Regions from separate parts of the Homo sapiens genome. Here region 2 is linked to region 1. Evidence: fine-mapped expression QTL. A gene starts in region 1. The other region holds a variant in brackets. All regions are shown on one strand. Distances are between the middles of the regions. Region 1 holds the start of NDN (necdin, MAGE family member). Region 2 has its middle 77 kb from the start of NDN.

Region 1 (4,398 bases):
TTAATCGACAGGCCCTGGTACAGCATTGGACAACCCTTCTGTCAGAAGTGTAGTGTGTTGTGTGCTGCAGGAGAGGCCTTCTGCACAGTCTGCTTGATGCTGGCAACTTCACTAGAATGAAGTCCAGGTAGAAGTTATCCAGTCCTGCCCAGGCAGCAACTGAAGTCCAAGCAGCTCTCTGGCCAGAGCGCTGATACTCACTTCAGCAGAGCCACCTTTTATTGTTGTCATGCCCCAAGCCTGCACTTTAATTTCAAGAATCCATTACATCTCGGAGGGTGACATGTGAGAATGCAGTTTTAATGAGATCACAATGTTAAAAACCATAGCCTATGGCCAAAGCCAAGTTGAGATTTAAATAGTAGGTTCAAACACTTTTCTTATTAAAAAATATATCAAATGAACTAAATATTTTATTTCTTTATTTATTTAATGTTTGAGACAGTCTCGCTCTGTTGCCCAGGCTGGAGTGCAGTGGCATGCTCTCAGCTGACTGCAAACTCCACCTCCCAGGTTCAAGCGAGTCTCCTGCCTCAGCCTGCCAAGCAGTTGGGATTAAGGGTGCCCACCACCACACCCGGCTAATTTTTGTATTTTTAGTAGAGACGGGGTTTTGCCACGTTGGCCAGGCTGGTCTCGACCTCCTGACCTCAGGTGATCTGCCCGCCTCACCTTCCCAAAGTGCTGGGATTACAGGCGTGAGCCACCGCACCTGGCCTAAATATTTTATTTAAATAGTTAGAAAATAATACATACCCAAACAAAATAAAGAATAATATTGATGGAGATTTAAATGCAATAAATGAGGATTATATTTATGAAGCATGGGGGTAATAAGTCTGTTCAAGAGACATTCTTAAAAACAATGAATATAATTAGCATATTTCTGTAAGATGTTCCCAAGAAAATGGTAGATATCTATAAATAGAAGAAGGAGAAAAAGGAGAAGTAGATGGAGAGGAGAAGGAGGAGGTGGAGGAGGGTGAGGAGGAGGAGAAAAGTGTTGAAATAATTCCAACTAAGACTGATATCTAGGAATTACCCTGGTGAAGTGGGAAGCTTAAGAGTCCTGTTGGAGGGACTGGTGTGGTAATGGCTCTGCCAAAAGTGTTATGTGCGTGCAAACCCAAAGAGAGAAAGCACAGAAAACCTTTCAACATCAACCTGCTTGAGGAAAAATAAAGTGGGAAAAGATACATACTCACAGTGAGGACTCTAGACATGTCAAGACAATTTTTAAATATGCTTTTGGCTTCGAGTGGCAATAACTAGATTCAAGACAGCATATTTAAGAAGCTGCTGATGAGAAGAAACCCGGGAAGAGCTGAAGGACCACATCAGCCCAGACCAAGGATGCTGAAGCAGCATTAAGGTCCCTGGTTTCAGATGCTCAGGCAATGACCCTTTTTTTCATGGAGAGCCTGTAGGAGTGACAGTTTTGTCTTTGCCCACTGGGAATCTGTTTTCCATACCTGGAAAACAGGGTTACCTATGTTTCCCCTGCTACCCTTTGGTCATCTCAGAGACACTACCAGATATTACCCATGGGACCTATTTTTTTTTTAAATCTCAGGAAAGACTTGGGTGTGGCTTCCAACGTGGAGGACTCAGTAGCTTCAGAGAGGGTCCTGAGAGAAGGTGAATTGAAGAATGAGGGTGCTGGGCAGAGGGAAAAGACATTATCATACAAGTTTGTGCTAAAAGATATAGCAATCCTTCTGCTATGGACTAAGTATGGAAAAAAATAAAATGGAATCAAAGTTACCCAAAGGAAGTGTAAAACCCAAATTTATGCCCGTTAAAGCATTAATGATGCTCTAAGTCCACTGCCTACTTAAAAAGTTCATAGTTCACATGGGTTGATAGGAAATTACGTTAACGACACACTGCATTTCCCCTTTTCTTATAGCCTATCTGATTTGGTAGGGAGTCGATCATTTTTTATTGGAATTTCTCAGGATTCCAACCTCAGACATCCACTTTACAGTTTACACATTTTCTTGGACAAGCCCGACTGTTCCTCTCACTGGTTCGCATAAAGCTCATGTTTACAAAGCCGCCCAGACCTTTCTCTGGGACTCTCATATTTAACTTAATTCTGGATATACCCAGGTAAGCGTTTCCCAAGAAACTTGACCCCAACATCCCAAAAACTTAAGGTATCTTTCCCTTAAACTGGCCCCTTCTCCAGTACGCATCCATCTCACTTCTCTCCTGCCCTAGATCTTCTCAGCCCAAACAGGAAACCCCGGGATCGCTCTCCCAGCAGGTGAAGCCTCGCCATGGACCCTCCCCGTCGGGGCCCCGCGCTGCCCCGCCCGCCCCCAGCCGCTGGCCAAGGCCGCGGTCGCGCAGGCGCAGTGCCGCGTCCCGCCGCCGCCCCGCCCTGCCCGTCGCTGCGGAAGGCGCCGCGCGCAGCAACGCGCACTTCCTCTCCAGGAATCCGCGGAGGGAGCGCAGGCTCGAAGAGCTCCTGGACGCAGAGGCCCTGCCCTTGCCAGACGGCGCAGACATGTCAGAACAAAGTAAGGATCTGAGCGACCCTAACTTTGCAGCCGAGGCCCCCAACTCCGAGGTGCACAGCAGCCCTGGGGTTTCGGAGGGGGTTCCTCCGTCCGCGACCCTGGCAGAGCCGCAGAGCCCTCCTCTAGGCCCGACGGCCGCTCCGCAGGCCGCGCCGCCTCCCCAGGCCCCGAACGACGAGGGCGACCCGAAGGCCCTGCAGCAGGCTGCGGAGGAGGGCCGCGCCCACCAGGCCCCGAGCGCGGCCCAGCCGGGCCCGGCACCGCCAGCCCCGGCGCAGCTGGTGCAGAAGGCGCACGAGCTCATGTGGTACGTGCTGGTCAAGGACCAGAAGAAGATGATCATCTGGTTTCCAGACATGGTGAAAGATGTCATCGGCAGCTACAAGAAGTGGTGCAGGAGCATCCTCCGGCGCACCAGCCTCATCCTCGCCCGGGTGTTCGGGCTGCACCTGAGGCTAACCAGCCTGCACACCATGGAGTTTGCGCTGGTCAAAGCGCTGGAGCCCGAGGAGCTGGACAGGGTGGCGCTGAGCAACCGCATGCCCATGACAGGCCTCCTGCTCATGATCCTGAGCCTCATCTACGTGAAGGGCCGCGGCGCCAGAGAGAGCGCCGTCTGGAACGTGCTGCGCATCCTGGGGCTGCGGCCCTGGAAGAAGCACTCCACCTTCGGGGACGTGCGGAAGCTCATCACTGAGGAGTTCGTCCAAATGAATTACCTGAAGTACCAGCGCGTCCCATACGTGGAGCCGCCCGAATACGAGTTCTTTTGGGGCTCCCGGGCCAGCCGCGAAATCACCAAGATGCAAATCATGGAGTTCCTGGCCAGGGTCTTTAAGAAAGACCCCCAGGCCTGGCCCTCCCGATACAGAGAAGCTCTGGAGGAGGCCAGAGCTCTGCGGGAGGCTAATCCCACTGCCCACTACCCTCGCAGCAGTGTCTCTGAGGACTAGCAAAGTCTGGAGGCAGATGAATGGTTTCTGACCCTCACCAGGGCTGTGGAAGGGTGGGGGTGGGTCATTATAGTATTCAGGATTTACAGTGCAGTATTCACGTGTAACTTTTAAGTTTTCAGTACAGTGCTTTTATACCTTTAATGCAATGTTGTATTCATTTGGGTACTATTGTGTAGTATTTAGGATGTATGCATGTTTGTTTATATGTAAGCTTGGTTGGTGCTTTCGCTTTTGTGCTACCTTTCTTGGATTTTTGTACCAGAGATGTGCTAAACTGATGAAATACATTGAGAAAGTTTCCATCTTATTCTTTTATATGGGACTGATGATGTGTGTTGGGGTAGACTGCTCCTGCAGAGTTTGGAAGAAGTCACCAGCAAAGCCGGCCTAACCAAGAAAAGTCAAGGCCCTTCATGACCTTGCTGGGCACAGAAAACACCCTCGTGGAGTACACTAATTTGAACTGGACTGGTCTCAGTGTGAGCACTTGGCACACTTTACTAAACACATATACAACCCCACCGTGAGTCAACTTTAAAGTAAACATTAAAGATTCTTGTGATACAATCATTTTTGGAAAAGTGTACTTTATCATTTTAACAAAGCAGTATGGTTGGGAATGAGACAATTCTCTATTTTACAGTGTATACAGATACAACTATTTCCCCTAATAGGGTGGGAAAAATCGCTACTCATGATTACTCCTAAATTTGTGAAGTTTATAGTTCTATTGTCTTTAAATGTAACTCATGTTTATTTCAAAAACATTCACAAATATAGAAAAGTATACAAAACAAAACAGTAAGATTGTCTGTAATCACATCATATGGGAATAAAAAACAAAAATAATTTCCTTCCCTTAAGTTTCTACATTTTATCAAAATTAATAGATGTCTTGTGACATCTATTAATATACA
Region 2 (4,398 bases), 77 kb before region 1:
CAAATTCAAAGTTCCACAAATCTCTAGGGCAGGGGCAAAGTGCTGCCAATCTCTTTGCTAAAACATAACAACAGTTAAATTTGCTCCATTTCCCAACAAGTTCCTCATCTCCATCTGAGACCACCTCAGCCGGATCTTATTGTTCATATCACTATCAGCATTTTGGGCAAAGCCATTCAACAAGTCTCTGTAGGTTCCAAACTTTCCCACATTTTCCTGTCTTCTTCTGAGCCCTCCAAACTGTTCCAACCTCTGCATGTTACCCAGTTCCAAAGTCACCTTCACATCTTTGAGTATCTTTTCAGCAACACCCCACTCTGCTGGTATCAACTTACTGTATTAGTCCGTCTTCATGTTGCTGATAAAGACATACCCAAGACTGGGAAGAAAAAGAGGTTTAAATGGACTTACAATTCCACATGGCTGGGGACGTCTCAGAATCATGGCAGGAGGTGAAAGGTACTTTTTTTTTTTTCTTTGAGATGGAGTCTCGCCCTGTCACCCAGGCTGGAGTGCAGTGGCGCCATCTCAGCTCACTGCAAGCTCCACCTCCTGGGTTCATGCCATTCTCCTGCCTCAGCCTCCTGAGTAGCTGGGACTACAGGTGCCTGCCACCACGCCCAGCTAATTTTTTGTATTTTTAGTAGAGACAGGGTTTCAATGTGTTAGCCAGGATGGTCTCGATCTCCTGACCTCATGATCCACCCGCCTCAGCCTCCCAAAGTGCTGGGATTACAGGCGTGAGCCACCGCGCCTGGCCTGAAAGGCACTTCTTACAAGGTGGCAGCAAGAGAAAATGAGGAAGAAGTAAAAGCAGAAACCCTTGATAAACCCATCAGATCTTGTGATACTTATTCAGTATCACGAGAACAGCATAGGAAAGACTGGCCCCCATGATTCAATTACCTCCCCCTGGATCCTTCCCACAACATGTGGGAATTCTGAAAGATACAATTCAAGTTGAGATTTCGGTGGGGCACAGCCAGATCGTATCACCCATTCTTGGGCATGCACCAAACTAACTTTAGGAGGAACTTCGTTCATAGTGTAACTTTGAAACAAAGATGATAGCAGCCCTTTCCTGAAACAAACCCCTTCCTTGCCTGGGGACCAGACTGTCTTTGTAAAACTAACAAATTAGGCACAAGATTAGAAATTATGGTTTAGGACATGCAGCCAGAGGCCACAAGAATCCTAACCTCCCCAGTTGCTTCTAGGGATAGCATTTTTATTATAAAACCTAAGACTGGTGCTCCAGAATCAGACCTTGCATTCTCATTCACCAGCTGGTGCCACCAAGATCAGCCATCTGGTTCAACCAGTTCTGCGATCCCACTCACAAACAGAAGACAGCAAAAAGAACCCAGTTCCACCCCCTATGATTTCCCCTCTGACCCGACCAATCTGACCCATTCCCTGCCCTCCACTGACCTGCCAAATTGTCCTTGAACAACCCCAGTCTCCGAATTCTGTGGCAGACTGATTTAAGTAATAAAACTCCTGTCTCCTGTTTAGCCAAGTCTGTGTGAACTAAACTCTTTCTGTATTGAAATTTTCCTGTCTTGATAAATCTGCTGTCTCTGTTGCAATTCCCCTCTATCTGGGCAGCGGGCAAGGAGAACCCATTGGGAGGTTACATTATTAAGTAAAATAAGAGTCAGTTGAACACAAACACTGTAATACCATGACAGTGGGTCTGATTAACTGAGACGACAACTAAGTGACTAAAGGGCAAGTAACACGGACAACAAGGAAACACTGGGCAAAGGGATGATTCAATTCCTGAGTGGGACAGACTGGGATGGCTTGAGATTTCATCATGCTACTTAGAATGGCATGCAATTTAAAACTTATGAATTATTTCTGGAAGTTTCCATTTAACGTATTTGGACTGTGGAAAGCAAGATGGTGGATAAAGGAGGACACTTGTAAATCAAGTTAAAGATAGGCAAAACATTGAACATACGCTTTCTCAAAAAATATGCAATTGGAATGAAAAGCATGAAAAGATGCTACACAGCATTTGCCATTAGGAAGTGCAAATTAAAACAAGTTACTACTACATTTATGGCAATGGCTAAGTTCCAAAAAAACGACCACACCATTTGATGAGAGGATGCAGAGCAACAGGGACTCTCATTCATTTTTGGCAGGAATGCAAAATGGCACAACCACTTCAGAAGACAATCTGGCAGCCTCTCACAAAGCTAAACATAGCATTACCATATGATCCAGCAATCACACTCCTAGGTATTTAGCCAACTGTTTTGAAAACTGAAGTCCACACACACA[G/T]TCTGCACATGAATGGTAACATATGCTTTGCTCCTACTCGAGAAAAACTGTCAGCAACCAAGATGTCCTTCAGTAGGTGAACGATGCATTGTGGTACATCCACATAATGGAATACTATTCAGCAATCAAATGAAATGGGCTATCAAGGCCTGCAAAAACATGGAGGAAGTTTAAATGTGTATTACTAAGAGAAAGACGCCACTCTGAAAACACTACGTACTGCACAATCCAATTTATATAACATTCTGGAAAAGGCAAAATGATAGAGACTCAATGGTTGCCAGGGGTTTGGGGACATGGAGGGTTGAATAGGTAAGTGCAGAGGATTTCTTTTGAGGGTAGTTAAAGGATCCTGTGTGATAATTGTCATAATGGATACGTGGCACTTTCCGTTTGTCAAAACCCATAGACCAATACCACACCACCCTTCCAACCCCACATTCACAGTCAACAGCAATGACTGCAGGAAAACCCGTCCTGCCCCGTGAGCATTTTGTGATTTGAGAGAGAGTAGTCCCAGAACAGAGGCAGTGGATTCATTCTCGAGTGCTCACACTCTCTACCCCAAAAGCTTCCATTCGGTTGCCACCACCATTATTTCCAAAAGGGAAACTTGCAGATTCCCCTTTATTGAGGCCCAACGTAAACATGTAGATTTCTGTAGTTGCTCAGCCTCCCACCACTGCTCCAGGCTGGCAAAGCTCGGGGGTCTCAGAGGGTTAACCAAGGGGAGGGTCCACAGGAAGCAGTGTTCAGATTTATCTGCACCCCACACCCCCAAGCCTTTAATTACGCCTTGTGAAACATCACTTTACCTTTTATTCCACATCATAATTCCCAAATGATCAGGGTATTTTATTTTACATCTAAATTTGGGATACTCATAGCCCATCTCAAAATCCCAGCCCGCCAGCTACGTCAATAGGAAAGCGCACGCAAGAGCTGCGCAATTCTGGTGAAGTGTTTACATCTGCAGCAATAAGTGAGAAATGGTTTATTAATAATCATGGCGTCATTGAGAGGGAGGGAGAAGCCGGGAGATAAAGACAAACGCACAACCTCCTCCGCTCTTCTCCAAACCACCCCACCACCAAGTTCCCAGTGCTGACGCAGGAGCACAAAGACCCTGCAATGCAGCAAGAGGGAGTGCGCATGCTCCCAGAGGACCCCTCCCAGGACGCAGACACAAGCCCCCCCACCCTCCCCTTTGGCTGCTATGGACACAAGTGACTCACGAAGAGATTTGTTCTCAAAAACACAGCATTTTTACTCATAGGCCTGAAATCAGCTTTTACTCAAGAATCCCAATTTCAAACATCCAAGCCTTACTACATTGAAAAATATAGCAAATGTCTAACAAAACTGTCCCTTCCAGCAGATTGTAATCAACTTTGTCATCAAAAGGACAAAAAATAAAAACCTGCACAGATATAGCACAGGGCAGACCGAAACTTCAGCTATTGTGGGCTCTCCTTGGATGATCATGTAGAATATCATCAGTACCCTGTACCAGCCCTGAGCTAGGCATGCTTCTGGGGTCAGAAAGTTAATGTGGGCAAAAGGCTTTCATTGAGCACAATTTGCATTTCTGACATTAGGGCCTCCTAAGGCTATGTTTTTTCTTTTCTTTATTTTTTATTTTATTTTTTGAGCTGTTATTGAAGTCACCCTTGACTCTATCAAGTTCTTAACTCACCTCTTGTCGAATTCCATCTGCCTTTTAATTCCACATCTTAAACCACAGATGATCAGGACTTCTCCATTCATCCACACCTGAATCGAAGGCCCCAATATTCCATCCCAAATGTCCACACCCACAGTTGTATTTGGATGGGGAGCAGATAGGCATAAAGGCAATTTATTTGGAGGCACTGAAGTCTGCCTTCATAGGAACAGAACAGAAAATGGCTGATGAACGGCTGTCAGCCCACAAGAGAGGATGTCAGGTTAGAAGGGTCGGCAGCGCATTAGCCCTCTGTTTCTCCCTGCTATTCCCACCCCTGCTTCTGCTGTGACCCTAAAAGAGACACAAACACAATGAAGAACTTGCCAGGCATCAAAGAAGAGAGTGCAAGGCCGGAAGCCCCCTCCTCTCAACGGGAGGGC

What was found. PIP is the estimated chance that this variant, and not a neighbour inherited with it, causes the effect. A credible set is the group of variants that fine-mapping cannot tell apart.
Region 2: its variant is the best candidate, but not a certain one, in a credible set for the expression of NDN in cerebral cortex (GTEx, PIP 0.71).

What each region holds. Positions count from the first base shown.
Region 1 is chr15:23,685,332-23,689,729 of GRCh38, reverse strand. NDN (necdin, MAGE family member) reads left to right here and starts at 2,425. Exons shown (of 1, transcript NM_002487.3): 1 at 2,425-4,330. The coding sequence starts at 2,513. The coding sequence ends at 3,478.
Region 2 is chr15:23,762,251-23,766,648 of GRCh38, reverse strand. No RefSeq gene overlaps it. Among named protein-coding and RNA genes, the nearest start is that of NDN, 77 kb to the right of the region's middle. The variant G/T (reference allele first, on the strand shown) is at 2,293.